Linked DNA regions of Homo sapiens. The protein of the gene in region 1 purifies or fractionates together with the protein of each later gene. This does not show direct contact. Each region holds a gene or a part of one and is shown on either strand. Other genes may lie near its edges.

Region 1 (3,500 bases):
AGTATGTTTCTTTGTGGTATCCCTTTAGTTGCCGAAGACCGTCCTCTAACACATTTCAACCAAAACAAAAATATACGTGTACCAGACACAGCGCCACCAGCCTGATGGATAAGAGCATTTTGTGGTGCTCCAGATTTCCATTTAGAGCAGTAGTGGCCTTTAAACAAGTAAGTCTAAGCTCAGATATTATTTCAGAATTTTTAGAAATTCTGCAAGACTGCCAATTTTTTCCTTCTGGAGATGAATCTCTGTTATATGAAAATTAGAATAAACATGGGAATGAAGCCATAATTAAATTGTGGCAAAAAGAAGTGGATTGAAAATAGGCCAATGAAAGATTGGTTCCTAGATGAGACATTTAATTGTTTTACATCTGTTCAAGTATTCTTGGAATGTGGTCTTCTTTGGTAACTTTTTGTAACTTTTATTATACAAGTAAGAAACATGAATCATGGAAAACGAGGAAAGATAGTTTAACCAAAGAACAGTAGTCACCTGTAATCTTGCCTTACAGAGATTGATTAATTCGACCGTGTATCTGCGACTGCATAATTCAGCCGTGTATCTACGACTGCATACATTTCTAGGCATATGTGTATGCATGTATTAGGCTTCTCCTTTTTTAACAAATCTCAAAATAAAAAGTCTTACAACCACAGTTACAAAGAAATTGAACAAAATCAGTCACACTACTGTTAACATCGTAGTGTTTTTAAAACTTTTTTAAAGAAATGTAAATGTTAGGATTGTAAATAGAAAAATACACTTGGTAAGAAATACTTAAGCCCCTAGAGTAAATAGTCAGAGGAGATGAACAACACTTTACAGAAGAAGAAATCAATAAGCAAACCTAGAGAAAAGACGGTTCCTCTCATTAGTAAATAGAAATCTAGTTAAATGAGACTCTGTTTATGCCCACTTCTTAGAAGGTTGCTTAAACTTTGTATTATGAAGCACAGACTTCTATAAAGTTATTCGTACTCATCAAGGGCTATAAAATTTGTGTTACCTATTGCCTCTACATATCTGGAAATTTATCCTAAGGAGATTATCCAAAACAGAAAACATCATATCCAGTCCAGGCACGGTGGTTGTAATTAATCCCAGCACTTTGGAAAGCTCAGGTGGGAGGATCGCTTGAGCCCACGAGTTCAAGGTTGCAGTGAGCTGTGATTGTACCACTGCATTCCAGTCTGGGTGCCAGGCTAAGACCCTGTCTTTTTTGTTTGTTTGTTTGTTTGAGACGGATTTTCATTCTTGTTGCCCAGGCTGGAGTGCAATGGTGTGATCTCGGCTCACCACAATCTCTGCCTCCTGGGTTCAAGTGATTCTCCTGTCTCAGCCTCCAGAGTAACTGGGATTACAGGCATGTGCCATCACGCCTGGCTAATTTTGTATTTTAATAGAGACAGGGTTTCTCCCTGTTGGTCAGGCTGGTCTTGAACGCCCGTGCTCAGGTGATCCACCCACCTTTGGCCTCCCAAAGTGCTGGGATTACAGGCCACTGTGCCTGGCCGAGACCCTGTCTCTTTTTTCTTTTCTTTTTTTTTTTTCTTTTTTTTTTTTTTTGAGGCAGAGTCTTCCTCTGTCGCCAGGCTGGAGTGCAGTGGTGCTATCTCGGCTCACTGCAACCTCTGCCTCCCAGGTTCAAGCGATTCACCTGCCTCAGCCTCCTGAGTAGCTGGGACTACAGGCGCGCACAACCACGCCCAGCTAATTTTTGTATTTTTAGTAGAGACGGGGGTTTCATCATACTGCTTAGGATGGTCTCGATCTCTTAACCTCGTGATCCGCCTGCCTCGGCCTCCCAAAGTGCTGGGATTACAGGCATGAGTCACCATGCCCGGCCGACCCTGTCTCGTTAAAAAAGAAAGAAAACATCACAGCCTAACTTATAATTATGAAAACTTTTTTTTTTAATACGGAGTTTTATTCTGTCACCCAGGGTGGAGTGCAATGGTGTGACTTAGCTCACTGCAGCTTGGATCTTCTAGGCTTAAGTAATCTCCCACCCCATCCTTCTGAGGAGTGAGACTACAGGTGTACACCACCACACCTTGCTAATTTTTTTTTTTAATTATTATTTGTAGAGAGGGAGGTCTCACTATGTTGTGCCGGCTGGTCTCAATCTGCCTTAGGTGATCCTTCTGCCTCAGCCTTCCAAAGTGTTGGATTACAGGTGAGAGCCACCAGGACTGCCTAATTGTAAACACTTAAAAGCGAAATGGGCCGGGCGCGGTGGCTCATGCCTGTAATCCCAGCACATTGGGAGGGTGAGGTGGGCATATCATGAGGTCAGGAGTTTGAGACTAGCCTGGCCAATATGGTGAAACCCCATCTCTAGAAAATATACAAAAATTAGCTAGGCATGGTGGCACGCACCTGTAGTCCCAGCTACTCAGGAGGCTGAGGCAGGAGAATCGCTTGACCTCAGGAAGCAGAGGTTGCAGTGAGCTGAGATTGCACCACTGACTCCAGCCTGGGCAACACAGTGAGACTACGTCTCAGAAAAAAAAAAAAAAAAAAAGCTAAATGTCCTTCAGTTAGTAGTTAAATTATGGCAGATCATACAAGAATTAAGTTAGTTGGTTGGGCGCAGTGGCACACGCCTGTAATCCCAGCACTTTGGGAGGCCGAGGCAGGTGGATCACCTGAGGTTGGGAGTTCGAGACCAGCCTGGCCAACATGGTGAAACCCCGTCTCTACTAAAAATACAAAAATTACCCAGGCATGGTGGCAGGTGCCTGTAATCCCAGCTACTTGGGAGGCTGAGGCAGGAGAATCACTTGAACCCAGGAGGCACAGGTTACACTGAGCTGAGATCATGCCATTGCAGTCCAGCGTGGGTGATGAGAGAAACTCCGTCTCAAGAAAGAATTAAGTTGGTGTTGATGAGGCCATGTGGCAATGTGGGAAAATGTATGATGAGGAAAAAACACAGGATGGAAATTATATGTATGCTGTGATGATATGTAAAACATACCTATGAAGGGCCCGGCACGGTGGCTCACGCCTGTAACCCCAGCACTTTGGGAGGCCGAGGCGGGTGGATCACGGGGTCAGGAGTTTGAGACCAGCTTGGCCAACATGGTGAAATCCCGTCTCTAATTAGCCAGACATGGTGACACGCACCTGTAATCACAGCTACTCAGGAGGCTGAGGCAGGAGAATCTCTTGAACCCAGGAAGCAGAGGTTGCAGTGAGTCGAGACCGTGCCATTGCATTCCAGCCTGGGCAACAAGAGCGAAAGTCCATCTAAAAAAAAAAAACCTATGAACCTATGAAGAAAAGTCCAGAAAGAGAAACTCTAAAATGATTGTTGTAAATGTGATTTGCTCTGCATGGATGAGTAGTAAGGATCATCTTCCTATTATCTACACTTTTTTAAAAAGTTTTAAAGAATTCCAGTTGGTGTTATGATTATGTGAATAAATCAAACCCAATAACTGGACAGCCATCAGTGGTTTGGGCCACTGTGATAAACTTCCAGTATCCAGTGT
Region 2 (3,500 bases), on another chromosome or scaffold:
ATCTCTAGACTCTGAGAAGGACACACTTGTGGCTGTGAACTAGGGTGCTCCGTGTTCTTGAACCTGGCTTCTGACTTCTGTCACCTTATGCCGCCATCCCTTCCCTCTGTGCTGCAACTGGGCTGGTTTCCTCTGTGTTCCTGCAGTGCCTGTGCTCCTCTTCCCAGGATTTCACATCTGCTGTCTGGAATAGTCTCCTTCTCTCTCTCCACCCACTCCTTCCCCCACCTAATTGCTTCCTCCTTACCCTTCTGAGCTCAGCCCAAATACTACTTCCAGGAAGTAGGTAGGCCCTGGCCACTGTCCCTCCCCAGGCCGGGCCCGTGTGGTATGTGCTTTCAGAGTGTCCTGCTCCTCCCTGTACCACTGAGCACCGTGGTAGTGAATGAACTAATGACTTGTGGAACCACTGCTGAATATCTGTCTCCCCTGTTAGAAGGAAAGTAGCTCAAGGGCAGGGACTGAGCTTCTCCAGTGCAGTCCTGTTTGCTGAGCACCTAAAAAGTGTCTTGCACATAGAGCTCTATAAGTGGGCTTGACACAGTAAATGAACAAGGTGCTGCCTCCTGGCCCCTCTAGGACTCTAACAAGCCTACTTGAGTTCACCTGCTGGCTCTCCCATGTTTGCTCATGCAGTCGACTTTGCCTCAGCTTGACTTCCCCTGATGGCTCTTATCCTTTCAGGGTTCTACGGTTGCCAGAGAAGCGAGCGACAAGGAGAAGGTATGCTGGTGCTGAGCAGGAATGGAAGGGTCGCTTGGAGTCAGAAACAACTCCTGTCGGCCATCCTGTCCCTCGCCCACCCCAGCCCCTAGCCCAGCTCCCAGACATGCCGTCTGTCAACATGAAATGCCGTGTGTCATGAATCACCTGTCTGTCCTTGTGCTAGGCCTAGACCTTGGTCTCTGGTCTTTTACCTCTGCCCTCACTACGTTCTTCATAGTCCTGCTGGGATGGCAGACATTTCTATCTCATAGTCCAGCCTGAGTCAGTCAGTGGCTGCCTGAGCCCTGAGCTGGTCCAGGCTCAACAGGAAAGAATCCTTTAGTCATTCCTCATCTTTCATGTGTTTGCCCTCCCTGCCCACCCAAAGCCTGGGACTAGAGGCTCCTGCACTGCTGATTTAGCAGGTTGAGGGTCGGTACACTGACAACCCCTCCTTCCCCTTTCTGTATAGTTGCTCCCGGCAGAACAGTTGGGTGTCCCTGGGGTGAATTAATCAGGCTTACCCAGCCTAACTGCTGTTGCTCTCCTAGGCCAAGGACTTGCCAACATTCAAAGACAATGACTTCCTCAATGAAGGGCAGAAGCTGCATGTGGGAGAGGAGAGTAAAAAGAACTTCCTGGAGAAACTGAAGCGGGACGTTGAGGTACTTACTAACCTTCATTTTCACCTGCAAGGCTCCTTCTGTACCTAGAGTAGGCGCCTCTTAAACCTTAAGAAGAATGGAATTCAGTACTTTCCAGGAGTATGGACAAAAGGGTGGTGATTTGAGCAGCGTGGGCACTTATGGGCACCTAAAGCAAGTGCAAATGATCATTCCACCTGACGGAGCATAGTTGGCGCCAGTAGGACCTTTGTAATTTAGTTTAGAATGCTTTTCCCTTTTCACTAATTCATTCCAACACCTTTTTCAAACTCCCTTCTGCTGTTGTCCCTACAATGGAGAGGGCATCTGGCCATCAGAGCTGTAGGAACCCAGCTATTAAGGTCCTGTAACCCCAACATTTTGGGAGGCTGAGGTGGGAGGATCGCTTGAGCTCAGCAGTTCAATACCAGCCTAGGCAACATAGCAAGACCTCATCTCTACTAAAAATTAAAAAATTTAGCCAGGCGTAGGGGCACACACCTGTAGTCCCAGCTACTTGGGAGGCTGAGGCGAAAGGATTGTTTGAGCCCGGGAGATGAGGCTGCAGTGAGCTGTGGTCTCACCACTACACTCCAGCCTGGGCAACAGAGCAAGACATTGTCTCAAAACAAAAACCGAAAAAGTTGGCTAAGCATGGTGGCTTACTCTTGTAATCCCAGCACCTTGGAAGGGTGAGGCAGGAGGATCACTGGAGCCTGGCAGATCAAGGCAACATGAGCTGTGATCATGCCACTGTGCTCCAGCCTGGGTGACAGAGCAAGACCCTGTCTCAAAAAACAAAAATCCACTAATCAGGTTCTTCTCTGGCTCTGGCTCTGATTCTCCACTTACCTAGCAAACTTCTGTTTGTAATCTGGGGAGGACAGGTGCTAAATAGTGAAAATGTTATCTGGACCACTTGATAACTCAGCGTCTCCTTCTCTTTTAATAAATTGAGAGGCTGCTCGTTAAAACCAAATCCTACAAACAAACTTGGGAAAAAAAATTTTTTTTAATTGTGGTAAAATACATATAATAATAGGTGTTTTTTTTGTTTGTTTGTTTGTTTTGTTTTTTTTTAGGAGATTCTCGTTCTGTCCCCAGGCTGGAGTGCAGTGCAGTGGCACGATCTCGGCTCACTGCAACCTCCGCCTCCTGGGTTCAAGTGATTCTCCTACCTCAGCCTCCCAAGTAGCTGGGACTATAGGCACGCACCTTAACCATTTTGATATATAGTTGAGTGGCATTAAGTATATTCACATTGTTATGCAACCAGCACTACCATTCATCTCTGAACTTTTATCTTTCCCAGCTGAAACTCTATACCCATTAAATACTAATTCCCAATTCCCCCTCCCTAACCCCTGGCAATCAGTGTTCAATTTTCTGCCCCTATGAAGTTGACTACTCTAGGAACTTCACATAAGAGGAAGCAAACAGCCAAGCGAGGTGGCTCATGCCTGTAATCCCAGCACTTTGGGAGGCTGAGGTGGGCGGATCTTCTGAGGTCAGGAGTTTGAGACCAGCCTGACCAACATGGAGAAACCCAGTCTCTACTGAAAATACAAAATTAGCCGGGCATGGTGGTGCACGCCTGTAATCCCAGCTACTTGGGAGGCTGAGGCAAGAGAATCGCTTGAACCCAGGAGGCGGAGGTTGCGGTGACCCTCCAGCTTGGGCAACATGTTATGAATGAAACTCCATCTCAAAAAATAAAAAAAAAAAAAGGAAGCAAACAGCAGTTGTCCTTTTGTGACTCTGTTATTTTGCTTAGCATAATGTCTTCAGGGTTCATCCATACTGTATCATGTGTCAGAATTTTTTTCTTTTTATTATTTATTTATTTGTTTTGAGACAGAGTCTCGCTCTGTTGCCAGGCTGGAGTGCAGTGGTGCGATCTCGGCTCACTGCAACCTCCGCCTCCCGGGTTCAAGCGATTCTCCTGCTTCAGCCTCCCAAGTAGCTGGGACTACAGGCGCGTGCTGCCACGCCCAGCTAATTTTTGTATTTTTTTAGTGGAGACGGGGTTTCACCATGTTGACCAGGATGGTTTCGATCTCCTGACCTCGTGATCTGCCTGCCTCGGCCTCCCAGAGTGCTGGGATTACAGGCGTGAGCCACCACACCTGGCCAGAATTTCTTTCTTTTTAA

The links.
Region 2: the proteins of CAD (region 1) and PIP4K2B fractionate together in Homo sapiens (co-fractionation; one large-scale study listed by BioGRID). This does not show direct contact.

Annotation. Positions count from the first base shown.
Region 1 is NC_000002.12:27,227,369-27,230,868, forward strand, and holds part of CAD (multifunctional protein CAD), read left to right. Parts: intron 1-3,500. UniProt on the Homo sapiens protein: Multifunctional protein that encodes the first 3 enzymatic activities of the de novo pyrimidine pathway: carbamoylphosphate synthetase (CPSase; EC 6.3.5.5), aspartate transcarbamylase (ATCase; EC 2.1.3.2) and dihydroorotase (DHOase; EC 3.5.2.3).
Region 2 is NC_000017.11:38,775,557-38,779,056, reverse strand, and holds part of PIP4K2B (phosphatidylinositol 5-phosphate 4-kinase type-2 beta), read left to right. Parts: intron 1-684; coding exon 685-723; intron 724-1,256; coding exon 1,257-1,370; intron 1,371-3,500. UniProt on the Homo sapiens protein: Participates in the biosynthesis of phosphatidylinositol 4,5-bisphosphate. Preferentially utilizes GTP, rather than ATP, for PI(5)P phosphorylation and its activity reflects changes in direct proportion to the physiological GTP concentration.